2 separate regions of the Homo sapiens genome follow, and region 2 is linked to region 1. The links come from fine-mapping of genetic effects on gene expression. A gene starts in region 1. The other region holds a variant in brackets. All regions are shown on one strand. Distances are between the middles of the regions. Region 1 holds the start of BCL11A (BCL11 transcription factor A). Region 2 overlaps BCL11A (BCL11 transcription factor A).

Region 1 (15,297 bases):
AAAGTGGACTAATTTTCTGAATGAGCTCCAAAATGCTTCATTATGAGACTATTTCTGCACACATAATCACCAGCGGATGGTATAACAAGGTAGACATGTCTTTCTTTCCTGTTTGCTTTTTTTTTTAACTTTGTACTAAAATACTCCAGCATCTACTTTACCAGCTTCTATCATTTTTTAAGCTTCCAAAGGGGAAAAGAGAGTTGGTAAGTCTCTGCTTGTGAAATCTTATGCTTGCTCTATCAAAAAAAAAAAAAAAATCACAAAATACAAAACATCCAGGATGCTGCCAGTTAATAAAACTGAAGCAGAAAATGTACAAGTCTTAAACAGTTAATCAGTCTGACCTTCTTTAGCAAGCTGCCAATTTTACATTTAATGAACTTAAAGCCACAGAGAATCAAAAAATAGATTTTAATTTGAGTGTAGAATATTGGAACAGATTTTGATAAAGTGCAAAAATCCAGTGAACTCAGGTTAAATTTATTTCAACCCTACCCAGGCTGAATATTGAGGGGGAAGATCTGGAGTAACTCCCAGATGTGCTAGGTGAAATAATATTGAGAGAGCCCTGCCTAGCTGCACCTGTGCTCAAGTAGGACATCTCATAATTTCTAGCCTCTGGTACTCCTCCTAATTTAACATAAGGTCACCACAGGAATATGAAGGTTATATTCCTACTAATAAAGACAGTAAAGTAAGCACTTATGTTTCTTTGCCCAACATACTGGCCAAAAGATAAATACAGAATACATATGCATACTTTTCAAATAAAAGAAGACAAACAGAAGTGCCTCTGCATTGTGCCTTAATGTCATTCTTCTCTTACATTTGCTTCCATTTTGACCAAGTGAGGAATAGGGAACTCATTCTCAAAATATTCCTGTTGTCTGAATTAAGGATTTTAAGTACACATTGATAAATGTGGCTTTTTTGTTTAGCATTAGCTACAAGTTCTGAGGTTTACAGACTGAAGGAAGACTTAGGAAAATATTTTATCAAACTTACTAGTACATAGAACCTTTGCAAAAAAAAAAATTTTTTATTTCCACCGTTAAGATTCTTTTTTTTTTTTTTTTGTTCCCAAGGTCTGACACATTTCTAAAAGTGGGAATATTATTTAGGTGCAAAAGGAAATATTCTCCTAGGTATCAAATAGTTAAAGGTAATGTGGTTCAAAACAGACTTGGTTAAAGTCTTCTAAATGTAGTGACTGAACTGATTTACAATCAAAACCGGGAAATGAAGTGGTAATTCAGAGGTTGCTGATTACACCTCCACATTTCACCTAATTAATTTTATAGGAGGCAAAGTTCTTGAAAATAACAAGATGATCAAATGTACAGATATAAAACCTGTAACCTCAACATTTTCTATGCTCTTAACGTAAATTATTGCTAATTAACAAGAATTATATTCTAATGTATGAAATACGTTTAACATCGGTCTCCTTGCAAAACATTTGGCTAGTGGTGTTCAGAGAAATACCAAAACGTGTTTTTATCATTGCTGGTATATTATTAAAAATCAGACAAAGTGGGACACAAAGAAAATATGAAAATACAATTCTCATGGTGTAGTCTACTGATTTGCATTGACATCTTTTCTCAGTGGCAATCAACATTTCCTTTCTGGGCATCTGATAATTTCTCTGCATTTTAATGCAAATTCCCCTTTCCCTAAAAACCTTCCTAACCCTCAGCCATTTACCCCCTCCCTCAATTCAACTCCATCCTCCTTCGCCCCAACAATACCAACATTTCTAAGCTCCGGCCTAAACTCCGGCTACAAAGCAGGGAGTCCTCGATTGAAGTGGAAGGGAGTGGGCAAATAATCATAATAATTAGCCGCGAATTCTCTCTACGAGGGGAGGAAGAAATAGAAAATAAAATGCTTCTACGTTCAAACAGCAAGACAGCCTGGAACGTCTCAATGTCTCAGTGACAGACTGAGATCTCTTTCCTCTCTGTGTAGTTGCAAAAGAATAAATTTAAGGGAAAAAAATAATCCTTATAGGAAATGTTGGTAAGGAGCGAGCAAAACGAGAGCTGCCGGGGAGCGGAGGGGGAGGGGGAAAGGGAGATGTGTCTTCAAGTTTGCTTTCCAAGTCCTTCTCCTTGATTGTCTTAACAGGGTAAAGAAGCAAACGGAGGCTGAAATTCAGAGAGGAAAAGCAAAGAAACAAAAGCAAAGCCGGGGGCTACAGGCCCGGGGCAGGGGCCCCGGCAAGGGTGGACCGTGCAGAAAGTGAAGTTGGGCGCGGGGACTCTGAGGCACAAAGCGAGCAGCGTGCTGGCTGCAGGCTCCCGCCGCGCTTGCTGCGAACACGTGCAGCAGCGGCCGCGGGGCCTTGGGGCCCGGGGGCCCGGAGACGGAGGGCAGCCAGGGGCCCTGACTGCTGCCTCCATGCCCGTCCAGCTCGGCCAGCTCGGCCGCGGGGTGACGGTTCCCTGGGCCTGCCAGTTGGTGAAAAAGGAAGTGAGGTTTGGAAAACCCGGCTGGTTAACCTGGTGCAGTCTCAGTATCTCCGCACACACCTCAAGCGCGGGTCCTGAGATTCATTCTGTGTCCACAAGCTTACACTTTTTACTTTGGGGGATCTCTGCAAATGCATTTCCCCCGCAATTCTGGGCACTGGGTGTGCGCGGCGGCGGCTGCGGTTATTCATTATTAATGACGCTGCCTGCCCGCATCATTATGATGATAACTATTACTATTGTTGTGATTCCGAGCTCCGAGGCGAGAGGGGGGGTGTCGGGCTGCAGAGCCGCCCAGCAAGCCAGCCGAGGCCACCGAGGTCTGTGCTTTGCATGGGGGTGAGGGGGTGGAAGAAGTGAGGCTGGAGACCAAGTGCAAACTTGCCATATCCCCCTCTTCGGCCATGCCCCGAAGCCCTAGAGCGCGCACTCCCGGTTCCTCCCTACCAAAAATGCCGGCCCCGAAAGAAAGCGAAAACTGCACCGTGCTCCGAGCCCGGCGCGCGCTGGTCTCAGCTCGCGCACGGGGGTGTCGGCCGCGCGCCCGGTCGCTTCTCCGCGGCCCCGGCCAGAAGCATTTTTAAAGTCAAAATGAAGAACAAAGACATACGGGGTGATGGGGGAGAGAAAGGGAATTCTGCCTAACCGTTCTTTCCCCCCACCCCCACCCTCGCAAAGCTCGTTCCTCCCCGGACGAGAATCGCCGGGCAGGAGGTGGGGGAGGCTCTGGTACAGGTTCAAGTTCGCTGAGCTTTCTTGATCTTGTTCTGCCTCCTAGCGACCGAATGGCTCATTCAGCCCACATAGCAGAGGCGGGGGGCGGGGGGGTGGTACTGAGGACCGGGATGGCTCCTGCCCCCTCTGAGCACCCAGAAAATGAGGACAGAAAGAAGTGGCCCCCTCACCCCCTCCCAAACTGGCCCTTTAACCCCGGGACAGGAGGAGGGGGTACTAACCCTCCCAGCCTAGAGTGTCCCAAGATGGACCCAGGAGGGAGAGGGGTACGAGGGAGCAGCCTGGACTGCGCGCCCCGGTCTGTCCTTTGAGCCCCCACTGCATCCTTCCGAAGAAGGGCCTGACTTTCCCGAGTCCTGCGAACACTGCCCTTCCTTCCCGCCGGTACCTGGCCGGGCTGTAACTTCACACCGCCGCGCGCCGCGTCTGATCCGCATCCGGCGCGGCCGGGGGAGTTGGGGGCGGGGGAGAGCGGCGAGGGAGGGATGCGAGGGGGTGGGGAGAGGGAGGGCCGCGCAACGTGCCGGGGTGGGGGAGCTTCCGAAGTGTGTGACAAGTTCCAGGGCCCAGTGAAAAATTAAATTCCCTGTGCGCACCCCCCACCACCACCCCTTTAAAAAAACACAGAACCAAGTATAGGTGGTCCTTTAAAACTGCATCAAAAATTTAAAGTAAGAATCATAAATTGAGTAGGGGGGGAATGTGGGCCCTCACGCCTTTCTTTCCCTTGCTGCCAAACTTTCCTAAGTGCCCACCGCCCGCCTTTCCAGGCGCAGTCAGCGGGAGACAGCCACCACCACCAGCTCTTATACAGACTCACAAGAACCTCAGACCAAGCCAGGCCTGGGGAAGAGGGCAAGACCCAAAGGGTGAAGTGCTCGGGGTCCCAGGATCCAGCGCCCTTAAAATGCACACTCAAACACACTTCTCCCCTGCCCTTCCCCGGCAACCCCGCCACCTGGCCTAGTCGTGCTCGGGGCGCAGGGGGACTGGTGACCAGACCGGGCGGGGTGGGGGGTGGGCAGGGAAAGCACGTGGTGACCTCCTCGCGGTCCCGAGCTGTGGACAAGAGACGTCTGAGAAAGTACCCAGGGCGGAGGGGAGGGGAGGCGCAGAACGCGCTTTTACAGTTGCCCTGCAAAATAAAAATGCTTTGCAAAGCCGAGTTTCACCCAGCCGATTTCGCAGTCTGGGAGGTCGAGAAGAGGTCTCGGCATTGTGCTGGGGGCGGACCAGGACCACGGGCCAGGCTGGCGCGGAGACACTGCGTGGCCTGCCGCCGTGCCTGGCGGGTGGGCGCCGGGCGCCGGGTGGGCGATCCGGGGCTGGGCTGGGGCGCGGCGAGGTCGGGCAAGGCCCGGGCGAGGCCAGGCCGCCGCCGCCGCCTGCTCCGGGGCTGCCGCGCCGCGCTCGGTCCTCTGTCTGTTTGTTGGCAGGAGGCTCCCGCACACGCGGTGCTTGTAAACATTCAGACACGAGATTTTTCCCAATCAAAATCCACTTCCACTTTTTTTGAAAATCTTCCAAAAAATAGTAAGAGGAGGGAGTTCCTCTCTCCCTCTCCGTGCCGTCGGCGCCCTAAGTTTGCAACTGAAGGGGTTTGGGGGAAGAGGGTGATTGTAAATTTTTTTCTAGATGAGAGATTGTGAGATTTTTGCAGGGGGGCTGGTGGGGGAGTCAAAGAGAAGGCCGTCACAGAAAAGGGTTGGCAGAGCGTTTGGCTTCGGTTTGGGGGCAAGAAATTGTACATTCTCTTGCCTTGTTTTATTTATTTTATTTTTATGTATTTATTTATTTATGTGCCAGTCTTCTCCTTGCTGCCTCTGAGGTTCGGTCGGGAGGGGAGGGCAGCGGCAACCCAGGAGGCAGCAGTCCGGGCTCCCTCCCTCCCTCTCCCGCGTGCCCCCGGCCGCCTCCTCCCCCGGCCCTAGCTCCTGCCCTTCGGCGGCGGCGGCGGCGGCGGCGCGGGAGGGCAAGCGCGAGGAGCCGGCACAAAAGGCAGCGGGACAAACACCCACCTCTGGCCGGAACAAAAGGCGGCAGTGCCGGCCGCGTCTCCCGTCCTTCCCGGTCCCACGGCTCTCCCCGTCGCCGCGGCCCCTCTCCCGACTCCGCGGACTCAGGAGCGCCGGGGGCCCCTTTCCACAGTGCCACTTTCTCACTATTGTGGGGATGACTACTTTCCTCCCGCTGCACACTTGACCGTGAGCGCGCTGGTGTCCAAAAGCCAGTCTCACCTCTTTTCTCCCCGGGAATCGTTTTTTAGACTTGTACTCACTCCCTCCCTACCCCCCCATTTTCTTACGGTGAGTGGGAAGCAACCTCCCTTTCCCCACCAGCTCCCACCCCCAGGTTTGCATGTGAGTTGTTCGCAACCTTAGCATTGTTCATTATTTTGCAAAACTGGCGGGGCGGGGGGGGAGTGGAATCATTGCATTCCTTTTCGAAAAGAGAAATAAAGCGGCGGAAAGGAGGAAAGAGGAGGAGTCAAATTTTTGTAAAATTAAATAAAATTAAAAGGTGCGTGCTGTCTCAAAAGTGCATACACGGCAATGGTTCCAGATGGGATGAGGGTTTTTTCCCCCTTTATCTCTTTTACCTCGACTCTCGGAGGTTTTTCTCGTGAAAAATTTAAAAATGCATGCACACACCCCTCTCTCCCCCTCGCTTTTGCTTCTAGTCCTGCGCGCTCTCGTGATTATTAATAATTATTATTACTATTATTGGGTTACTTACGCGAGAATTCCCGTTTGCTTAAGTGCTGGGGTTTGCCTTGCTTGCGGCGAGACATGGTGGGCTGCGGGGCGGGCGGCGGCGGCGGCGGCGGCGGCGGCGGGCGGACGACGGCTCGGTTCACATCGGGAGAGCCGGGTTAGAAAGAAGGAGACTCCAGAGAAAATATCTTCATCAGTGCCTTTTGACATCCAAAATAAATTAGAAATAATACAAAGATGGCGCAGGGAAGATGAATTGTGGGAGAGCCGTCATGGCTTTTTTTTAAGCAAAAAAAAAAAAAAAAAAAAAAAAAAAAAGAGGGAGAGAGAGAGAAGAGAGATAGAGGGAGAGAGAGAGAGAGAGATGAAAAAAATGGCAAAAGCCCCCCTGAGCTGCAAGTTCAAGTGCGGACGTGACGTCCCTGCGAACTTGAACGTCAGGAGTCTGGATGGACAGAGACACACAAAACATGGGCAGGGCGAGCAGGAGAGAAGGGGAGGAGGGAAGGGGAAGCTCACACCAATGGACACACATCAGGGGCTGGACATGAAAAAGAGACCAGGACAAGCCAATGGCCAGTGCGGGGAGGGGGAGGTGCGGGGCGGGGGGCTCCGCGGACGCCAGACGCGGCCCCCGGGGGAGGGGCGGGCCGAGGGGAGGGGGCGCTGGGGCCGCGGGCTCACCAGTGGCCGCAGCGAGCGCCGCGGCGGTGGCGTGGCCGGGAGAGAAGAAAGGGGTGGCAGGGGTGGGAGGAAAGGGTGGGGGGGAGCAAGACGTGCGCCCTGCTCCCCCCCACACACGCGGACTCTAAAATGAAAGATTATTCAAAAAAGAAAAAAATAGAGCGAGAGTGCACCGGGAGGCTGCAGCCCCGGGCTGGGGAAGCGCGGGCGGAGGGAAGCCAGGTAGAGTTGCTCCCGGACACCCTCCTCCGTACGCACACCCACTTCCCCTCCCCGCCGCCGCCGCGCTCGCTCCCCGCGTGTGGACGCCAGGGGCCGAAGTAAAAGCCCCGAGCCCGCGGCTGCGCTCGGGAAACTTTGCCCGAGGAGAGGACAGCAAAGAAAAATCACCCGAAGTTGAGAGCTGAGCCTCCAAGTTACAGCTCCGCAGCGGGCGAGGGGAGGTGGGAGGGAGCGCACGGCAACGCGGAATCCAGCCTAAGTTTGGAGGGCTGCGGGTCCGGAAGGGCAGCGCCCAAGTCTCCAGGAGCCCGCGCGGCCTGGAAAGAGGGGACCGGGGAGAGGCAGGCGGCGCAGGCCGGGGCCCGAGGGCGCCCCCAAGGCCGAGCCAGGGACCGGGAATCTGAGCGCCCCGCCAAGCGACTGGGTCTGAATGCAACTGAAAGCGCCGAGTCCCCGGCTCCTAAGGGTCGCAGAAAGAGAGCCCGAGGAATAAAGAACGAGGAGCCAGAGTCTGGCCCCCGGAGGGGAGCGCCGGGGGCCTGGGCAAGAGAGGCACCGAGGCGTCCACCTCTCTGAGAGGCCGAGGACAAAGCGCGGGCAGTCCCGGGAGTCCCAGTCCCTGGGAATGTGCTCACGGCGCCGCGGGAGGTCCCCGAGCCGGGTCCCTGGGAGGGACACACCCCCTCCCACTCCAGAGCAACTGCAAAAGCACAGAGGGATGGGAAGAAAATGTTTCTTACGGGCAGAGCACAACTGTTCCTGTGCTGTTACCCAGGGAAAGAGAAAATGGGAATGGAGAGAGAGCGACAGGCTCGCAGGAGCAGCGGGGAGACCACGGTGGTGAGATGACCGCCTCGGGTCACCGCCGCGCTCCCCAGGCGCCGCCGGCCAAGGCGCACACCCAGGAGCCAGCAGCCCCCTCTCGCCTTTCTGCAGACGTTCCCTGGAAATTAGGGAAGACCTGTTGGAAATAAAACCCTGTCTCTTTAATGCACACACGCACACACACGCGCGTGCTGCCGCTGTCAAAAAGCGGGCTTCACTCTGGCGTGGGATACTTTCAGTTTTACGTAAAATGTACAGCAACAGCACCCCCTGCGATTGGAAAGTTTATTCAGAAACGTGCCTGTAAAGTCCCCTGGCGCCTCCCGCCTCCCAGCCTCCCTGCCTGCCAGCACCACTCTGCAGCCGCCGCCGCCGCCGCCGGGGAGATCGCAGTCCGATTCCAAATCTGGAAGGAGTTGGGGGGAGAGGAGAATGGACTCAGGTCCAAGGGAGGTGCGGAGGGTGCAGGGTGGAGACGGGTCGCCATGGCCCGCGAGACCCTGAGCTGCAGGTGGATATGTGTGAGTGTGTCTGCAGAGCGAGGAGCCCTCCTTCCCTCTCCTCGGAGCGGTTCCACAACCCCCGTCTTCTCATCCCCCTCTTCAGTCTAAAGGGTGTCGCTTCCGTAAACTCACCCACCCGGTGGGGGGGCTTTATTGTTTTAAGCGAGGGCCCCGGGCTTGCACGCGCTCACCCATCCCGCAGCCCTGCCGGCAAGCGGCTGTTTATTCCTGTTTCGTCTTAGTAAAGTTTCAAGTCTACTGTGTTAGAAAATGACTGGCTTGCCTAGCTCGGCGGAGCTTCGGACCCCTCTAAGGAAGAAAAGGAGGTTTTGATGCTCAACATTGAGAGAGATGTGGGCTGTACTGGGATTGTGTCAATGTGGTTTGTTGTTTGTTGTTGTTTCCCTCCAGTTTGTGGGAGGGAGACCTCAAATTCTGTTTAAGAAGCGGGAGGATTCACTAGAAGTTAAGCTCTGTAGCTTGTGTGTGACACCATTTCCCCTTTTCACTGAGTTCTTCAGAGCAGGTCAGCATCTCTATTCCACCACAGTCTGCTTTTTGTCTTGTTAAACCAGCCTTGGAGTCACCAAAAGAATGTCTTCTTGGGGGGTGGCGGGGGAGGACGACGTGGGGGACGGTTGGAGGGAAGGTGAAGAGAGGGAAGAAGAAAGTGCAACTGGGAGGCCTTTGAAAAATAAATAAATAAAAGAAAAGCCCCTTCAGGTAACAATAGTGAGCCAGATTCTTTCAGAACCAAGCTTTTCAGATTTGAATATTGTTCCCACCCGTCCATAAAAGTCCATCTATAGAGAAGATATATAAATGAGCGAGTGAGTGTTGTGGAAATATATATATATGTATGATTTATATATAATGGTGTGTATAAAGCTTTTCGGGGTTGGCTGTAGTGTAAAAAGTAATGACTTTATTACCTCTGAAAGGTTCTGTGGTTCACATTTAACAGTCTTCTGAATTACAATTCATTACACAATTGTGTGCGCTCTGACGATGGCACCCTATCAGGGCTGCTATCTGTGGCTATTTCCAATAAATAACTGGCAACATTTTATTGATTTTCCTTTTTAAAAAAAAACATAGGAAATTAAGCACTTAGTTACAAGTAGGTCTGCTATGTTATTGCACTTGTTTCAGATTCCAGGGGGTTCCTTCCTAAACCACATCTTAAAACATACATTAAAAAGCCAGTTTTGCAGCTGCTTTCCCTGGGTGCCAAAGGAGAGGTAAGCAGCGACGATTCCCCGACATATATTTAATTTCACCATCATAATATGCCCAGGGTGAAATGGGAAGTGCCCTCCGCTCCCGCCCCTCCCCCAGCCAGATTTCACCCAGTCCAGAAAACCACGGCTGTGTGTCGGCATTTGATCCCTCCTGGTCGTCGACCCCCCTCCCCGGCCCCTGGTGCCCTCCCCTAGGGCGACAACCCCTCCCTCAGCACTGCTGGATGCTCGCTAAAGAGCCCGAAAGTGGGGGAGGGGAGGGTTTGTATGTGTGTTTAAAGAAAGATGTGTCGTTTTAAGAGATTTTAAAATATTACGTAAGTATTGATTAATGATGCAGGTGGTTTTGTAGAGGGGGTGAAAGGTCACTTTAAATGCGCACACTTGGATACACAATAAGTATATTTACCTTTCCAGAAGTGGCTTTTAGAAAGTAATAAATTATGACAACGTTAAAATTATTTTCTGGCCGTTCAGTTAACTTCGTTTGGGGCTGTAGAGCTGTTGCTGCTCCCATTGAAAGGGTAATTACGTTCCGTGGGCTCTTTCCCAAACCTTTGGTGACGACACTGCGTGTAAACTCCAGGCCAGCAGACGACCCCTCCCCTTCCCTCCTCCCCCTTTTTATCTTGCCCGCGGAGGAGACGCCCCAGGACTTCCTGCAGTATATATTCTGCCTCTGATCTCCGTACTTAATAGCCAAGTCCTAGTTTATGCTTTATAATGTGTTGACAAGTTTTCTAACAGACTTTCTGAAATAATGCACATATATTCACGTCGGTTAGAAACCCACCGTATTTTTAGAGTTGAGTAGATCTATACCCTAATGCAGTGAGAGAGTGTAAATCATACAGGATTTCATAGTCCTTTCAGTAGTTTTCGGTATGAAGTATGAGCCGCGTGGCCTCCAGACGTAACCTTTTAGAAAAAAAAAAAGACAGTGCTTTTATTTTATGGTGTAAAGTGCTTTTAGCTCAAGGGCTCTGAACGTGAATGTGGTCAACAAACAGCTCGAAGAGGGAGACTTAATACAGTCCCAGCCCTCGGACCGAGGATCGCCTGGCGCGAGGAACTCGGGCTGAGCTGGAAGATGAAGGGTTAAAAGGTCTGTCAGGATGGAAACTACAAGATTAAAATAAAATATTCACTGTCTGCCTTTAGGGGGAAACACCTTCATAGACTCAAAGATAAATAAGTGAATGACTGAATGAATGATTAAAAATACAATCATTTCCTTCTTGATTTTTACTTTAGCCTTTTTTCTTCTTTTTATTTCTTTTCTTTTAATTTTTATTTTTTGTTTTTCCTAATTGGCAGGTCACAAAATAGAGAACAGGCAGTCATCTTCATAAAAATAAAACTTAGGTTTGGATTCTATGCTTGGCATAGGTTTTGTATTTTGGGTCTCAATGATGGAAGTGCTAGGCTGTTGTTAAGACAAAGGAAAAATGAATTTTAAAATGTTGGGAATGGCTGGGGGTGGTGGCTCACACCTGTAATCCCAGCACTTTGGGAAGCCGAGGTGGGAGGATCACTTGAGGTCAGGAGTTCAAGACCAGCCTGGCCAACAATGTGAAACCCCATCTCTACTAAAAATACAAAAAATTGCTGAGCATGGTGGCGCATGCTTGTAGTCCCACCTACTTGGGAGGCTGAGGCACAAGAATCGCTTGAACCTGGGGGACAGAGGTTGCAGTGAGCCAAGATCACATCACTGCACTCCAGCCCGGGCAACAGCCTGTCTCAAAAAAATAATAATAAAAATGTTAGGGAGTTGCTTGTGGAAGAGGATGAGCTTCTTTTTCCTCCTCTACTCCCAGTGTGACCCACAGGTTGGGAGGTCCCTGGAGGACAGTATCTATACCTTCTACAAAGGCACAGACATCTCTCAAGGAGGCTCCTGGGAGAACCATTAGTCTGGCATCTTTCTCTCCAGGCTCCCTGGGCCTTTAGCTAGCTAGCAGTCAGCGCTTCAAACACCTGAATGAACCTATCCAAAGAAAAAGGAAAAGGAAAGAAGGAAGAAAGGAAGGAAGGAGGGAGGGAGGGAGGGAGGGAGGAAGGAAGGAAGGAAGGAAGAAAGAAAGAAAGGAGGGAGGAAGGGAGGGAGGGAGGAAGGAAGGAGCGAGCTGAACCTGCTCTAAGTCTATACTTTCCTCTAGATGAGGCTGCTGTGTGCTAAGTCAATAATGTATGGGGAAGAGGGAGCAGTAGTCTTACCACATAAGTAAGGGGCCCCTTGGAAGAGACAAAGAGTTCTAGTTAGAACGCTACTGAATGAAATGCTCAGTTTAGCTTCCTAATATTGACATCAAAGACACAGAGGTGCTGGGCAATGCTGCCAGTCCAATGAATGTACTGCACTAGAGAGTTCCTAATGCAATAATCAGCACACAGTAGATGTCCAATAAATGGTCTTTGATAAATAATAAATTAATAAAGTTATCTGATAAATAATAATTTGATAAATAATAAACTAATAAATCCTATCACCACATACATGAAACCAACATAACCATCCAAATTCTATTCATTTTCCCCCAAAACTAATAAGGCTTTGATCAGGCAACCCTATTCCAAGAGTGTGTTTAAACATAAAAGTGATTCCCACCAAGGATGGTGAGCTCAGAAAAGATTATCTCGAATATCAGAGCAGCTGAACAAGTAACAATACAAGATATTTCCATCGTCTCCAGCAGCATACATTATCAAATATCTTCCAAATAAGCCAGTATCAATAAGCTGGTATCAAATGATTTCTTTTTTTTTTTAACATTGCTTTTGGATACGTACAAAACTGCTTTCTCAAATGAGACTACTTTTAAAGGAAAAAAAATACAATCAAAACAACCAAAAATAAAAGGTATTTCAAACTTGATTCTCTATGCTTCCCTACCCCATGCATCTTTTACCTTTAGCAAGGGAATAATTTTTTAATACGTGTTTTTCAAACCCAATCTTAAAAACAACCTTCACCTATATGCCTCTCTCTTTCCCTCTCTCTCGTAAATAAAAAAAAAAGCAACACACACACACACACACACACATCTGGTCTGACATTTTGTACAGCCAGCTTCAGCCCAATGTGATTTAAAACAATGTGAGTTAAAAACCTCTTAAAATTTGGGTTTATAATGGAAACGCTGACAGACTCTTAATTATAGCAGCCCTGCCAGACACTGCTATAATGAAATAGTTGTGCTTTCATTACTATAGAGGCACTATAGTTAAGGGTCTGTCAGTGTTTCTATTATAAACCCCAAGTTTAAGAGGTTTATAACTTGGGCTATTTAAATGGCACTGGGTAGAATTCAAGTTATCAGTCCAGATGTGAACTTGTTTTATAAAAGGCAGAATAACTCAGCTGAGGAAGCTTTTGGATCTCTCTCTCTCCTCTTTCTCTCTCTCTCTCTCTCTCTCCTGTTTCTCTCTCTCTCTATCTCTTCTGTTTCTCTCTCTCTCCCTCTCTCTCCTCCAGAACATTTCAGAATGTTTTTAGTAGTTTCAGATGGTCTTATTGCCAACTTCCAGCTATGACTTCACTGCCTGAAAGGAAATTTTATAGGCAGTTAGTCCTTTATTTGGACAAGTACTCTTTGCGATTTTATAAGTTTTTATTATTTTATCCTGGAGTATGTATGTGTGGGTGTGTGTGTTCCTACATATATATAGGCGCACACACAGAAAGAAACAACTTAAAAATCAAGACTATATGCCAAGGAATGTTGCGACCTCATACATATACACAGAGGTATGCATTCTGTGCTACCTTCTGATGAAAAAGTATGAACTTACCAGAAAGGAAAAATAAAGCACCTCAGATCATCTTAATCCTGTCTACCAACTGTGTGGTAAAAATAAGAGTTAGTATTCACATCTTATTTCATAAAAGGTACAGCTTTCCTGGCATCACTTGGTTTGTTTGGAAGGCAATAGCATGGTGCAGTCATCCTGAGTTACCCAAGGACTGTACACAAACACCATGTATTTCTCTGCTTGACTTTGACTGTTGACAGATTGATGAAGAATTTACTTTGTATAATCCGGTGGACCAGAGTTTTGAAATATGTACTATTAACCTGGTATACCACCACCATAATATGAAACTAATGTTTATGGGTGATGATGTGGCCGATGCTGAGTATATGCATGAGGAAAACAAGGATGGTGGTGGTAATGATGATGATGGTGGCGATAGAGGTGGCGGTGGTGGTGATGATGATACTGGTGGTGATGGTGATGGAGAAGGTAGTGCTGATGGGGTGGGGAGTGGCAGTTTCTCTAATTAACATGTCCACCAGAGGGCAGTAGAAATAGGATGAAAGATGGGGTAAGGTTAGAAGCTCTAACACTTTGTTTCTCCAAATCTTGTTGCTTTAGAAAAGCCACTCCATAAACATCAGGTGGCGGACAAGTTAAAGTGAAGTTTTTAAATGCATGCAGCTCATGGCACCTCCACCAAAATGTGACCTTGGCTGGATGTTGTTGGCAGACCCTAAGGTCACTGACTTCACACAGAAAGGCCCACCAAGAGCTATGCAGCAACCACATCTGCATTCAGAAATCTTTTCACTTTCAGAAGAGCAGTTCCTTTCCTCTATTCCCTCTGACTGGGATCAGACCACCAAATTAGGCCACTGAGGACCACAGGCTTTGATCGTTCTCACTTCACAATAGCTTTAGTTGGTCTCCTCTGGAATTCAATGAGTGACAAAAGGGAAGCAGTCATCAAAACATGTCACCAGGCTCAAGTTCCTTCTCTACCAGTGTCTCATAAACCCCATAATTGCCTAACCCCATAACCACTCCAGCTGAATGCCAGTCATTCCCAGAGAGCACTGCACAGCCCAGACTATTCTGGTCCCTTCTCTAGAAATTAAGACTTTTTTTGTGTGTGATAGTCAATAGTCTTTTTTGGTTTTTTCTTGTCAAATTCAGCAAAGGGAACTTTTCTAGGAGAAAATACCTATCCCTCTGTCATCTTTCTTTGGCAGCTTAGTAGAGAATAAACAAATCTCTCTATTCTCCCATTCCCAGTTGCACACAATTTGCCTGTTTTCTCTTTCTCTTAAAAAAAAAAAATCCTTGCACAAGTTCAGTTATCTGAACCTCCAGATTCCTATAAAATGAAGAATCTGGTCCTAAGAATTGTTATTCTTTCCTTCTTTATGGAGCACTGCACTGTGCAAACATAAGATGTGGTCCCTGCTTTTGGATGATTGGTTTTGTTTTGTTTTGTTTTTTAAGGCGGTAAGACACACATACACAGGCACAAGCATGTCACATAAAGTTCACCAGTCACACATGCCAAAGCCATACAAATGCACACTATTATCCTATTTTGTATAGCCCTAGCTTCATATTACTAATTTGAGCGGTTCTAAACCTATAGCGAGGATCTATGTGAGGCAACACAGCTCTGGTCACTCTGACACCAGATTTGTACTTTCTGGAGAAAAACTTGATTTCCCATAAATGAGAATGGTAAATAATGAGGTCTGGTCATAGATATCTGTGATCATCTATCTCTATCACAGTTTTTATAATGTTTTCAAATGGCTTAACTAGTTACTTTTGAGAAATGAGCTTTCTGTGCTACCACTTGTTTTGTAGGCAATATTATGGACTATTCCTAGCATGTATTTGTGAATGTGCCTTTTTTTTTTTTTTGAGTCGGAGTCTCGCTCTTTCACCTCTGGAATGCAGTGGCACAATCTTGGCTCACTGCAACTTCTGCCTCCAGGTTCAAGCAATTCTCCCTCCCTCAACCTCCTGAGTAGCTGGGATTACAGGTGCCCACCACTATGCCAGGCTAATTTTTGTATTTTTTTAGTAGAGAGGGGGTTTCACTATGTTGGCCAGGCTGGCCTCGAACTCCTGACCTCACGTGATCCAC
Region 2 (15,297 bases), 27 kb before region 1:
AAAAATAATTGCAAAATTATTTATGCAGGAGTATTAAAATTTTCCTCAAAAGTTCCCAGGCAAATGGGTTCCTCTTTAATTTTCACCCTTACAATAAACTCTTCTGCAGGTTTTGTTTATTTTGAGGAAACATTTCACTTTTTTTTTCAAGACATGAGGTGTGAATGATGCAAAACAGTATTTGGATATGTAAACTGAATTATTTGCATAATGCATTACTAATCAGTGAGTATAAATTCTGGAGTCTGAGGACCTGAAATCAAGTGCCACCAAATTTTTTAAAATCTAGATTATAAAAGTAAAGAGCATCACCCTTCGGTGGGATAATGTACACATTTGTGTACACATTCGCATTCCGTTTATAAGAAGGAGAAATTATCCTCACAGAGTTTTCTGAGGAAAATTAAATAAGTGGCCTTTGATGTAAACTGTTTTGCTCTGACTCAACACTATGAGGCATAAGGTCCTAAATTCATAGGCACAACCACAGAAGCACCAAGGAGAGTGAAGATATTTGCATCAAAAAGAGCAGACAGTCCCCCACCCCCACCCCATGTTGGTCGCCTACGGAATCTACAGGAATCTGAAGGGGCAGCCAGACATTCTGCCTATACCACCCATCAGATCAGCCACCAACCGAACCAAAAACCACCCATGCCCTTCTCCAGTGGGTTCCCACCGGTGTTTTCGTGCAAGCTTAGCCCCTTCTTTGCAGAAAAAAAGATATTGATGTGCCAACAGTAGAAAGAAGAAAAAATTATTCCAGCTCTGTACACAACCTTTGTCAACCCAGCATGATAAAACCAAGTCTGGGAAACTATTTGTCTAAACACTTTTTGGAAAGGGATGAAATGGAGAGGAAAGGAAAAGGAAGTGTAGCCTAGTGGTCAGCACACACACACACACACACACACACACACACACTCACACACACACACACACACACACTCACACAAATCCTTGAGGGTGCCAGGTTACATTTCTACAACAGCTGCCTTCCATTGTCTACTGCCAGTGAAGCCAAACCAGCCTAAAATTTAATTTAATCTGCTGTAAACCCAAGTATCAGGCACTTAGATGGCAGCTAAAAGCGCCACTCTCAGATAACTGAGTGACACTTGCTAATAATAGCCTCTGTGTGAAGCGAGAGAGAGCGGACATTTTGTAAAACCAGAGGGACCCGGGCCTGGGCCTGGGCCTGGGTCTGGGAATGGTGTGATGTGGTTAGGCCAGTCTCAGCTTCCAGGCAGCAGATACGGCAGAGACGAGGCCCACCATGGCTCCCCTGTGACGGGCTGCACGAAGCCCACCAGTGACCTAGCTTTCAAGTCACACAGCGACAGTCCTGGCTTTTGCTATCTAGAAGAACAAAATTCCCCTTTCCAGCTCTGCAATTGCCACTCTGCTCCCTTTCATCTTCCATCTTGTGCCCCAGTCCTCCCTTAAAGGGAAGGCTGCTTAACCCTTGACGTGTTCTTTGTCCCCTTCTTTCTGAGAGTGTGGTCAATCTCCTCTCAGGCAAATCATCTTTCTCTAATAGCCAGGGCTCAAATGGCCAAAGAAAGGTCCCAAAGCCTTGTCTTCATAACACTACCAGCCACGTGAGCACGTCCCAGCTGCTTCTTCCTGACCCTCACCACGAGGCACAGAGGCACCTGTGCTGAAACTCAAGCAAACGCCACATCTGACTCTGCCTCATGCACTGAAAAAGACAAGGGATCTCTGTTCTTCCAGGAGAATGGGGGACAGTGCACAGTACAGACCCTTAAATGACCCCTTCACAATGAACTTCCCAGATACAAGACTTGAGCTCACAGGTACTTTCTTGCCCATAGGACACTTGTCCCCTTGCTACCTCTGAGCCAAACCCTTGGTGAAGAAACAACACCGACTAAACAAGGCCATACTGCTCTCCACCAGTCAGGCAATACCTTTATTTTCTGGAAAAATCTCAAATACTACAAAAGTAGAGAGAATGTTATAAATCAGTCCCCAAGTCCACATCTTCCAGCTCCAACCACCACAGCTCACAGTCATTCTTGTCTTCTGTAACCCTATCGCCTCCCTAGCCCATTTTATTATTTAAGTTGATCCCAGACGTCATATCATTTCATCAGTAAACACCTCTGTATGTATTTTTTAAACATAGGAACTCGTTTTTTTTCTTTTAAATACAACTGCAAAACCATTATCACACCTAAAAATAATAAAGTCACAAATAAAGTCCCGTATTACCAAATAGGGGAGTTATTTTAAACTCAGAAATACTTCTTTCCATCTGGGTCATGTTTTGGAGGATCCCTTCCAGTGAGGTTCAAGACTGAAGCTGCCAAGAAAAGCTTCAGAGAATCACACTCTCTAAAAAGGGCCTTGTGTAAAGCCACCTTGCATGTCAGCCCAAGCTCCTGCCCCTTGCAGTCCTTTGCCCTGTTCAGGGCTGAATGCACCCTCTGAGAGTCTCTGTGACAGTCCTCCCACATCGACTGCCCCACAGGCCCTGAGTCTCCCTCACTCCCCACCATGTGGCCCATCACCACATCCGACAAGCAGGTGCACTCCCAGTGTTCAGAACTGGAATTCATTTGTCTTGGAAGAAAGTGTTCTCCTGGACGGTTCTGCACAGAATTCATTCACAGAGCATGTCTTGGATATACAGCTGACTAGATATGTCAGTTATGTTCCAAATGGGTTTTCACAGGTCAAGGTTCTGCAGGCAAGAGCAAATACTATTTTTAGACAGGATAAGGTCAAAATGCTTTTAGAGACAGTGAGGTCTACAATAAAACCTATTGATCAGCCTCTGGAACTAGTGCTCCAGAGAGACACAGAGATTGAAACAAAAATTGCCTGGCCGTTTTCTCTGTAGACTCTGTGGGTAAAAGCTTGTTGGACTTAATATCTTTCAGGATATAAAATAAGTAAGAAGTAACTGTGTACAGATTACTGAAGTCCATTTAACCAGATGCAGAGGCAGGTCACAGAAAATACACTCATGGCAGAACCGTAAAGAAGGGAGATTTCAAGGCAACACGTGTTGCAACCTAGAGAAAGAATAAACACCAGTCTTCTCAACTCAGGGGAGGCACAAAGGACAGCCTGCCATCCAGGATTCCTGCTTGGGACTGTTGCTCCTAAATTTGCCACTATGATCCTCAATCCAGCGCTATGTGAACAACAGACTTTCAGATAAATAGTATGGAGATAATTTGCTTAAGTCAGATTTTGATGAAAAGTGGTTTCTACATGGATAGCTTTCAAAAACTTCTATATTGATTTGATGGAATCATGGTGAATTCTAAAGACTTTCCTATTCTCTCTCTCTCCCTTTCTACACACACACAGGCACACAACTATATATATATTCATACATGCATATACGTATGTATATATGTAGTATGTACATATGTATGTGTGTATATAGATGCATATGTATATATGCTTTATCTTATGATGACAGTGTTGATGTGTTTGGGGATTTTTTTTTTTTTCAAAAAGAGTTAATAAGCCTTTTATAGGTGTACCACACAAGACTCCAGTAAGCAAAATCATTCATTGCCAGGCAAAACTTGAGAAATACATTTAGAAATCATACGAGCACACAGGAGCTCAATCAAGTAAATGAATCACCAAGGCACAGAAAGTCACTGGAAAATTACTTAACTAGCCCAAACGTTCAAGAATTGACCAAGGTTTAAGCAGTAAACCCTAAATAATTTATTTAAGCCAAATAGGAGCTTTAAGCACAGACATTAATGTAATGGACTATCCCATCTTAAACTTCAGCCAGAGATCTAAAACTTTGAAGTCAATTATGTTCCCATAAATACCTCTCCATTATCAGGGGTGCTTTATTGTTTGAGAGACTCCGGACCACAGGAACTAGTGTGAAAACTGGAGGGTATCTTCATTTATCATCCGCTCCCATTTCGCAAACAAAATATGCCATGGTAAATATAATCTATATATCACATTGTGACACAGCTGACCGCATTAGTGAGCCAAGACTGTCCTAGCGGCAGCTTCCTATCATGCATTAACAATACAACGGCTGATACATTTGCACAACACAATAAGAGGTGGGGGAGAAGAGAGAACATTGGGCTATGAAATCCTAAACTTCATGTCTGAATACATAATTTTGTCACCTATCTCTGGCATGAATGTTATCATGCTTTTATTTCAGGTAATAATGGAAGGGGAAAGTAGAGCCTCTGGGGGGCTGCCATTCATTCGGCCTGTTATTTGCTTTTGGGTTGGGTTAGGGCTAAACTTTATGTTCCTTGTTTTTGTTTTTGTTTTTTTTTCTTTTTTCTTGTTTTTTAAGATTTTATTTTGTTACCAGAGATAGAAGAGCATGCAAAATCAGAAACAGCTGATTACCAGTGCCCTTACAGAGCATGCCTATTAAAAATCCCCAAAACATTATAAATTAAAGAGGCAGTAATTTAAATAAATTACCTTTTTATTGAAGCTATAGATCTCAAGAGTGCCTGTGTCCTACAAGGAACACATATTTCACAACTGATTCATTTGCCCCTTACTCTGAGCACATGGGATAATAAAAGAAAGTTTTAGATCATCATTATCCAAAGGATAACTTTGAATGCCCTTTTTCAGCATGCTTCTGAAAACATTTCATATCTCATTCAATGCCACATATAAATGGTATTTGCTGGACAGTGTGGAAAACAGAAACATCCGTGCTAAAAGCCAATGGTAAACACCAAGTTTAAAAAATGGATTGCAAAGATCGCATGTCCCAGAACAGGCCATATGCTTTTACCTACATGATGAATAAAAAAAGAACATTTTCCCTCAATTTATGCTGTCTTCAACACTAACAGAGGGAGAGTTCTTCTAAACATGTTGCATCGGATGCCTTTAACAAGCAAAAATTCCTAACTCCAGGGACTCAGCATATGTAGGCTATGTCCATACAGAGAAACCAGCTTTTGGGAGGAGGAAGGAGGAAAATATCACTGAATTCAGTCAGTTAATTGAATTTAAAATACCTGGTTGTTTGAATTCAACTATTTCTTTTTCAAAAACGTACTTCTATTTTGATGTAGTTACATTTGCCCAAAAAAGCAAACTTGGAGAAAATACACATTACATTCTTTGGAGTTTTTCAAAAAAAACAGCTTGCAACAATTAAAAGATGGAGAAATCTTATAAGGCTGGAAACTTCTGTGAATTATCACCATTCCATTATACTGCACTTCAATTTTGCTTCCAGCAATTTGAAAGATGCCTTTAAGCTTTCTGTTGGGGAATCACGAATCCAAGCCTTAATCTCCACCATAGCTTCCATCTTTGAGGCAAATCAAGAAAATAATATTCTGCTGTCTTTGCAGGTGAGCCCCATTCAGCAACTAGATTCCAAAAAATAGCAGGGAGAAAACTGGTCAGTGGTGTTCATACTATGCTAGAACATCATGGGGACTTAGAGACCCACCCAGTCCAAACTATCTATTTTACCTACTTTACAAGACAAGGAAACAAATGCTAACAGGTGAAGGGAGCCCAAAATCTCACAGCATGATACAATAAGGGTCAGAACCCAGGTGTCCTGGTTTTCAGATCAGTGTCTCTCTGTTAACACTAAAAGTCAAAGTTTGGTTCTGGAAAATCTGTAATGCCCAAAAGACCTTAAATGCCCTCCCCCCAAACCAGTCTTGGTAATTTCTCCATGGCTTTCACAGAAGGGTAAATGTCTACTTGGAAGGCCTTTACTAATTTTTATGTTATCTTCTTCCTTCATTCGTGTTTGGTAATCAAAAATAGTTTATCATAATGCTCTCAATTGGAAGGTCTTCATACTACAGGCAGATACTGTTATTTTCTGGTAGAGGATGGCAGCAGGGCTGGGAAAAAAGAATGTGGTTTTTTTCTAACCACAGTAGGTTTTTTCTATAACAATGATTTCACTTTCTAGATATAAAACAGGCATGGTTTCTCTCACCCTGAACTTCTGCAAAATCTAGATTTGATCAAATTCAGAAACTGGTGATTTGATCAAATTCAGAATCCCATATTTTGGGATGATGTGTTCTAGCAGAAAGCTATTGGTTGGCTATATTTTGCTCTTTCTTCCCCAAAAGATTTTTAAATAGTTTTCATCTTTAAAAGGATTTCAACTTCAGATTGTGCCCACGCCAAAGTCTCTATACATCTAATCAATAAATAAATAAGACAAACAAAGCAGCATATGTTTATCCTTTACCATTTGGGAAGTGTACATTAATTACTGCAGATTGTCTCCTATGCATCTCCCCCCACCCCCTCTGCATCGCAGACAGCAGTGCTCAAAAGGGTCCGCAAAATAAAAATGTGTCGGGTAATTAAATGGGTATTTATAATTAGAACTTAATAATTTGCATCAGGGACAAATGAGCTCTGATTTTAATCTGCAGCGCATTTAGATTAGCCCAAAGATAGTGTAATTTGATGGTTTATAGGCCTCCTCTCGGATTATGAAACAATACCAAGCCTTCAAGTGCAGTGTGTCTATGTCAGGAGGGTGTTAAAGAAGAAGATGCAATGAAAATGTTTGACAACGTGAAAGCAGCCATAAATTACATGACAACTGTGTAAAAGTCATGATGAAACAAATAAAGGGCTGACCTATAATGCGTCTGATTCATTGTGACACACACAACTCCCTGCGCTAATCTCTGCCCAGCCAACGCATTCTTAAGCGGGGAACTACTTAGCACCAGGAACGTTGTAAATTATCACTAGTCAACAGCATTGATTTTTAGTCGACATTTCAATCAGGTTGAAGTAGAAATACTACCCGGCTCATCCAACAGCCTCTTAACCAGTCCACTGCCCCTCTGAGGTCTCCCCGGTTATGGCTTTGCTAAATTTCCATTGCTCTCACCATTCGATATTTATTGTAGCTTTGCCACATCCAGGCACTTGGCCTGAAGGGTCACCGGCCTGCCTCTTGGGACATCAAATTTGTGCTTACCTAACGAAGGCAGAAACAGAAAAAGAAAAAGAAACAAAAGGCCATCATCAGAGATGTGGCCTGATTTTCACTGATTTTCAAGGGAAGAGAAGGAAAACTAGGGGGTGCGAGCGAGGGAAATAAGAAGGGTTCTAAAGCCATGATACGCCTTTTATCATTTCAGCTTTATCATTTCAGTCTAGGAGACCCAGCAAATAAAACTAAGAGCTTCTCTTCCAGGGTGACAAGGGAGAACCACTACACTCTTGACCCAAGGGTATGTAGAGACAATGAAGAGGGCCAAGAGAAGGGGTGAGGGGGAAGGGCTTGCATGACCTCCATTGAGGACGTCCATGCCCCGGGACAGAGTGCGAAGTAAAAGTGAAGCTTTGGAGCTCTTGACCCACATGGATTCTCAGCAGCCACCTCCATCCCACCTCAAACTCAGAAGACAACCTGGATGTGACCGACAACTTCTTTGTGATGGATCTGAACAGCCTCCCTTGGTTCTAGCAGAAGGACTTACCAAGTGAGCAGAGCTCCCATCCGATACTCGCCAGTGCTGAGGCCAACTCTTCCACTCCTCCCACGGGGCCTCCGCATGAAGTAGGCGCTTCTCAACTACCAAATGATTCTGAAATTCTCTCAGTGGAGGTCTATGTTAGCCTGGCCAATTTGAAAGGATGGAGAATACAGGAAAACAGTAACATTTGGTTTTGGAATACATTGTGTAATCCATCTGCAACGAACCTCAGGTCTTGCTTCAGCAAATATTAATAGCGTCAGGGCAGCCTGTGGAGTGACTGGGAGAGGCCACCACGCAGCTGAAAACTTGCCTCTGGGGAAGCCACATGCGGATCATATGGAGCTGTTGACTGCAGTTTCCATTCAAAACTTCCCTCAAGTTTCCAGCATGCCTTCCGGACTTGCCTTACCACAGCCTTGTTCAGCCAGAAATGAAAACCTCCTCGAAGCAGATTATGACCCCCCAGAACCCATCGTCCTAAGAAACACCACTGCCACGCACACTCACTCACACTCAGTCTCTCCCTCCCTGTATAATTCTGATTCTCCCCAGCCTTTGAAGGTACGATCCGAGAAGTAAATGCCACAGAGACAACACACAGAACTGCTGCAGGCCAAGCCTCACCACTTCTTAAAAGTCCGAGCTTAGTTTCTCATTCAGCCCACTGCAGTCTCCTGACCAAGCCACACACAAACAGTAAAACCTCCTCCCTCTGTTTCTCAGGACCCTCACTTGATTTCAGGCTCATTCTGGACAGATGGGGAAATGACTACTTGCAAAGCAGGATTCCTTACATTGCAACTTTTCCCAACAGCTCCGTGCTCCTTCAATATGCCCAGAACTGGAGGGGAACATTCTTCTCTTTCCCAGAAGATTGAAAAACTTGACCACAGAACCCATGGGAGGGACAACTGTCCAGCACCAGAGCTTCCTGCCCAGTTGTTGCCTGGCACCGCTGAAGAAAGCTGCAAAC[G/A]TACTGAAGAGGTAGCAGAGGGTGGCGGCCGCAGGCCAAAGGATTGAACAACTGTGGACCCTCAGGGAAGTCATTTAACCCTTGATGAACCCCAATTTCCTCCTCTACCAAATGAGGCTAATGGGAGTGTTTCCTTTCCGAGGTTGTTGTGGGATGGAATATCAATGTGTCAGACACATGGTAATAATGACAACAGCAATTCTGGAGGTGCAGCCCCCGGAGCGAGTAATGTCTGTGCTTTCCCTCATTTACTTCTCACATGGACTCTATGAGGTAAGGGACCTTGAGTTATCTCCATTTCACAGAGAGGTGAAATGATTCCCTCAGACTCTCCCAACCAGCTAGCAGTAACATAGAAATCTGAACCCAGAGTAACTGTGTCACACACCCAGGCAGGCACAAGCCTCTCGTAAGGCAACACACGTCTATGGGGAGAGGGGACTCCCACCCACGAGGGAGCTGCCACCAGAAACATAATGAGACCCTGAGCTCTTTAGACCCCCACCTGCCCTGCTCTTCTCTCATCCCAACCTGCTCACCCCATAATGGGGGAACTACTTTGAGACCCCAGGAGCACACAGTTCCAAGCCATGAGTCATAACCGTAATAGTAATGAGCTTTTGTGACATGTTTTACCATGTGCCCAGCACTGAGCCCAGCGCCCCCACATGCTCTCATAGGATGCTCAAAGGCCCTATGAGGCAAGCCCCGTGATTCTCCCCACTTTACAGATTGAGGAAGCGGAGGCTTAGGGAATGAAATCTGCCCAAGGTTGCACAACTAGAAATGGTATTACTTCTTTACCCTCAGCCTAAACCATTTTATTTCGTGTAATCAAAGAGAAGAAGAAAAGAAAGAAGATACATCATATGTCAAGGGCATATTTCCCCTCTTTCTGTCCCTCCTCCCTTTCTTACCAGCTCAGGTTACAAAGACATCTAGGTGGGAGAGAAGACTGCCTCTAAGGGCTTGGCTGAGTTGGCGGGCGGGAGCGGGGGCAGGTATCCATGGGATAAACCCAGAGGCCCCCAAATTTTCCCAGTTTTTATTTGCTACTAGAAAAGGAGAAGGAAATCCTGCCTCCCTTATGAGGCCTAGCCAGGGGAAGTAAATGTGATTTTATCACATTTTATATAGATGTGCACAATGGTGCCTTTTCAAGTCTATGATGGGAAAAATATTTTTTATTGTGTGAATATCATTTCAGACAGGTCCCCAAACCACTTGAAAGCCCTGGTGTCCCCTAGGTGGGATTCTATGAACCCAGCTTTAGCCCCAGCAGCTCCTCTGGTGGGAACTAGAACATGCCTCCTGCCAGTTAGTAACAGGGAAATTCAATTACTTCGCCACTTGTGGCAGGAGGGCAAAGACTGCACATTAAAAGAGCTAAAAATGTCAGGAAGTTATTGGGATGATGACTCCTGCTTGCCAACATTCATATATGAATGCATAATGTCACAATAAACTAAAAAACACAGGAAGAGGCCAAGAAGATAAGAAAATCGAGAACAAAACAAGCCCAAACACATGGGTTTGCCATCGGTCCTGGGTCCTGCCCAGGAAAGGCTGCGCCTCTAACAAGAGCACCTTTTCCCCACCCCTGGCCTTTCTTGAGCCTTCCTTGAGCCTTCCTTGCATATTATCGTTCTCAGCCACCGACAGCTTAATTCACAGGCCCTTCCAACAAGTTAAACTTCAGCCATTTAAAAAAAAAAAAAAAAAAGAGTTTCCACTGATTTCTTACCTGCACACGCAGGCACGCCGGCCACGCCCCACCCCACTGCACCACGAGCTCTCACACCTGGTCGCCTGAACACAACCAAACCCTTCCCATCTGGCCCTCGGGTTACTGGCGTTATCACAACTTTTTTTCCCAACGGCAAGCCAGGAAAGATGATAGAACCCGCATATGTAGCCAAAAGACTGGCCTCAACTGGTTCAGAGGAGGGAAAAAATTGAGCTGTGCGTCTCTTTTTTTTTTTATTTTTTATTTTTTTGCCTTTAGCCAAAAGACCAGGGAGCATTTGATGTACAGTCAGCAGGTATTTAAAAAAGAAAGAAAGAAAAAGGAAAAAAAAAACACTGAAAAGGCTTGGCTGCACTGGGGCCCTGACACGCTCTCATCTAAAGCCTGGCCCTCGGCCAAGTTCATCTGTTAATGGACAACCACAACCAGGGCCTGCACCTCCCCCACCTCCCACTACCCCTCCTGAGTCTTCTCTGTTCTCCTACCTCTTTCGAGCTCCTAAAAACTAGACATCGATTATGTCTGCGCTTTTCCCTTTCTATTCAAGATAAACAAAGTGCTTCAAGTTCAGGGCGCACCCTGGGACCCCTGACAAAACAATCTATCATTCTGTCTGCTAAACCAGTCTGGCTACACCATGGCCAGGGAGAGTAACGCTCCCAATGTACAATTTTCCCTTTGTGCTCCTTCCCTCTTGCCACTAACCTCTTTTCTTTACCACCTTCTCCGGAGCAGATGGACTTGACCACTTTGCTTAAGCCCCTCCTGGCAACCTCAGAAATTAGAGAAAAAAAAAAAAAGAGCTCCTGGCTACCCTACTCCGGTCCAGGTTTTTCTCCTCCCTCTGTGTTGCCCGACGGTCCTGCACACACAGACACAAATCCCGTTGGACCCACAGAATCTTTTCGACCCTCTCACACTAACACTAAACCAGAAAATAAATTAAATACTGGGACTGCCCCCTCCTTTGCGTTCTGCAAGAATATTTTAAGTGAGTTTTGTTTTAAATCATATCCATTAATTTACCCTGACTTGCAATTAAATGCAAGCACACTTTTTACAACCAGTACGGAATGCATTAATTATAACTACAAATGGTCAAATGAGAGCAAGGTCCCTCCAAAAAATATTAATAAAATACATAATAAATAATATTAATGAAACAAAAATAGATTCATAAGCCTTGGCCAGGGCTTTTATTATTTCATGCAAGGGGAAAGTCCAGCCAATGAAACTTGCTCCATACACTTTGGCAGGACTCAGACCAACCACTACCATTAAACTCAAGAGCGTGTTTTGGCAGTGCCCTGGCATTGGGGGGCCCTGTGCAGACACCACCAGGAGACGCTGACCCCAGTACCCAAGGCAGGGTCCATAACGTCTTATTCAGCCTTTCCATGTGGTCGGGAAGTTACCCACAGGCTGCTTCCCTCTTCCTAACCACCCTCTCTGCCGGCCGCAGCTGTTCTGTCAGTGTCCACCCTGCCCCTCAAAGGACAAATGAAATCCCCCAGACCCAGTGGGAAATAAGCCCACCTAAATGAAGAACTCAAGACTAGGGCACCATGAGCATCTGGGTTAAGGCTCGGAATCCTGCACCAGCGTTGGAAGCTGCCTTTGTTCCTGCCACACCGCCGGGCCCCTGCTAACCTGTCTCCACAACACTCAGCCTCACGCCTCACCCCAGCACTCCCTGCCTCTGCCCCTCCCCCCAAATCCAACACACCCACCGCACAATCGAATCTAATTAAGATCAGGAAGAAATTTGCATTTTCTTTTCACTGTACCCCCAGTAATCACAGAAGTTCTTCAAATTTTGAGAATTTTGTTCCTCTGCTAATTATTTCCCTCATTTTGCATTTCAAGGCACAAAGACAGTCTATCTCACTGGTGGTCTATTAATAGTTTGAAGTTTTGAGCGTCAGAAGGTGGTTGTTGCTTTTTGGTTTTTGGGTTTTTTTTTTTTTCCTTTTAAAACTATTCTGTCATTTCCAGTTTTTTAAAAAGGTTTTGTTTTGTTTTGCTTTGTTTTTTGTTTTTTTGTTTTTCTTTTTTTGGTGGTGGTGGCGTTAATGTTTCTTCAGAAAGACAGCTTCTGGGCCACTCTGGGTATTATGATTTGGTTTCCCCCTTACAATAGTTACTCTCTGCCTGGTTTACTGATTTACAGAACCTTGGTATGTGAATGGCGAAAAAGAAAAAAAAGGAAAGAAAAAAAGAAAATTCCTTGGCATAAGGATATGTTTGCTGATCAAATTTCAGATCATGTGTTGTTCATTATTATGACTTTACTTGAAAAACAGTTTGCCACAGTGAGATGGATTCACTTATATGCTTTCTACCCCTCCACTCCCTTTAAGTACTTCGAAAAACAGTACAATTTTTTTAAAGGTAGATTTAAAGCATTAACTGGTTTGGATTAAAACAATGTTTCACCATCTGTAAATTCCCTGAAAATACATTTTCAAAAGACTTATGCAAAGCCACATGATTTTGAAGGAGCTAATGAGATTGTCCCACCACCAAAATTTAATGGTGACTTAAGAAATTCTAATACTTTTTATTTACTTCCTGTAGAATTATTTGTGTACTTGACATTTATACAGTTTCTCCATTATATAACAATCTACCCTGGGTACACTAGATTATGCCAATCTATTAGAATGAAATTTGTACTCCATATAAGCAGAAGTTTCCAGTCACTTTTGACTTACCATTATGTTTCAATGTAAAGTGTTATTATAGCAGAGTATAAAGCACAGCTCCTCCATGCTCACGTTTTTAACTCTAATACTGTAATCTTTCTTGCTGCTTCTAGGGCTGTGTCAGTGTTTACATTCCTGGAAGTTAAATAAACCGACATGGCAAAACTCCTGGATAGACTGAATAATAAGGCTTGTGATGACTAAATTGTTTACTTTTTACCTTGTTAGGATCCCTTTCTTGTAAAGTTTGGGGGAGAGAGAGAGGAGAGAAAGAGAGAAGGAATGAAGGGGGTGATGCAAGATAGAAGGAGAGAGATTTATACACTGGCTTCCATATGTCACAAAGACCTTCCTATCCACAGCCAACGCGACTGAAGCAGCATGCATAAGTTAGTGTTGCTTGTTTTGTTTTCTTAAATACCGGGTCAGCTGAATACCCCTTTCTCCACTGCCCACTCAGCCCCACATAAAGTATGAAGATTTTTTTTGACCATTTTCAAATAGCAAATTATCCATTAGATTTCATCATATCTTAGTAAAGCAATTACATCAAGAAAATGATAGTGCGTGTGGAATCAATTATGCATGCAGTTGGCCGGAGACCAAAGGCTGTGAAGTCGGAGAGGGCAGAATCGCTCGACACACACAAATAAAAAGCCCCTGGATCTCACAGATGGACCCCATCAGTTCATCTTACTGCCTAAAAAGTTCATGCACTTAATAATTTATTTGTGTTCTGGATACTGTTTCCCAGCTGAATATTAACAACTTTAAACTGAAGCATGCTTTTAGCATGGTATGGATGGAAGTCACGGTAGGGCAGTGCTAGGTCCCTCGGAGGTTAAAATTATAGTTATGTTTCTTACACACTGTTCATTTTCCATCACAATTTATTTTCTTTCATTAAACATTCGTTTTAATCAGAATATCAGTTACACTGTTCTGATTCTGCTTGTTAACCAGTGATAAACTCATAAACCAAAGATGAACATCAATAATACAGCACAGGTTATTCAACAGCAAAGGCAAACACCAAAATCACAGGCTCTCAAAAATCGGAAACCGTTAGTTAGCACCTTGTTTTCACCACCAGGGCACTCGTGTACCTTGAGGGAGACACTGGGAGCCCAGGGAGCCTGGAGACCAGGATATACTTTGGTGATGAGGGGAGGACACATTGTAGCTCAGAGCAGCAGCTGAATGAGAAAACTTACTTGATCTAAAAGATAAAAGAGTCAGCCAAACCCAGGCCCAAGTCCTTTAGGTGCCAGCCATCTATCTAAAGAAGAAACCTAAAGCATTGTTAGAAAGGTTTGTAGTTCTGTAGCCTTCCCTCCTCCAAAGGAGGAACCTGATGTCTTAATACACTATAATAGCCAAGGCTTCCTGCCATCAAACTGCTAACAATAAAACTGCCCTGCAATGTTCGTGGGGAACAGAAACAGGCAATACATATTTCTCTATGTATCTGGAAGTGCCTCAATCATATACTTAAATTTTACAGTCTTCTCCCCAAATGAGAACGATTTCCAGCCAACACGTTCACAAACTGTACTTAACGTTAAAAGAAAACGGATAAAACATATGTAATTACTCAAGGTTAGACTTCTAATTCCTCAATTCACTAAAGGAAACTTGGCAAGAAGATGCATCATTTTGCTCCTTTCTACTGGGGCATCTGAGGAGGAGAGCCACTGAGGCAGCTAATACACAAAACATGATCAAAAGTGATTAACAACAGCTTCATATGCAAATTACATTAATGAAGGAGTGCAAAGTCATCATGTAAATTAAATATGTCAAATCTCTTGGTGAACTTTTAATCTTGAGAAGAAAAAACACTGCTTTAATTTTTTTACATCATCAATTTTGCAAGATTGAAAATCTAAGAATCTTGGTGCTATAAACAATTTTCACCTTTTTTTTCTCCTTCAGCAGGCTGACAGGCCAGCCTGATGTGCACCGAATGTACATGTTAATAGGCCAATCAAAAATGCAAAACAATTCGCAATTACTGGAAGGACCTAATGGTCATTAGAATTTACAACTAGGTAATGAACTGAAGTCTGCCCACACCATGCATATTCATAAAGCAATTTAGCCTTTGAAGATTAAAGAAGTGCTTAAAATTCAAATGAGCTTTAGCAAATTATCAGTAAGATTCATCCAAAAAGCAAAGGGTTTTTCTTCCTATGATTTCCTCATTTTTTTAATGCAAAATTGTAATATCTTCCAGACTGAGCTTAAACTAAACATAGAGCTTCTAGTCAAGCCAAAGGGGCTAAGATACAAACAGAGGCTGCAAACATCGTCACGGACTTTGTTCATAAAACTAAGCCCTTAAGAGCCAAACCTATCTCTAAACATGGTAATTTATCAAAAACAGCCCAGAGT

The links.
Region 2: its variant is fine-mapped to the expression of BCL11A in lung (TOPMed, PIP 0.95). The same link has a PIP of 0.9 or more in nasal epithelium.

What each region holds. Positions count from the first base shown.
Region 1 is chr2:60,547,268-60,562,564 of GRCh38, forward strand. It overlaps BCL11A (BCL11 transcription factor A), which reads right to left and starts at 6,387. Exons shown (of 4, transcript NM_022893.4): 1 at 5,949-6,387. The coding sequence starts at 6,003. RefSeq lists enhancers at 2,275-3,047, 2,668-2,717, 3,048-3,820, 7,647-7,696, 8,271-8,879 and 1 more and silencers at 2,278-2,457, 4,148-4,457, 4,518-4,577, 5,098-5,457, 6,867-6,956 and 1 more.
Region 2 is chr2:60,520,177-60,535,473 of GRCh38, forward strand. All of the region lies in intron 2 of BCL11A (BCL11 transcription factor A), which reads right to left. Among named protein-coding and RNA genes, the nearest start is that of BCL11A, 26 kb to the right of the region's middle. RefSeq lists a silencer at 10,565-10,634 and enhancers at 11,655-12,214, 14,093-15,297. The variant G/A (reference allele first, on the strand shown) is at 8,452.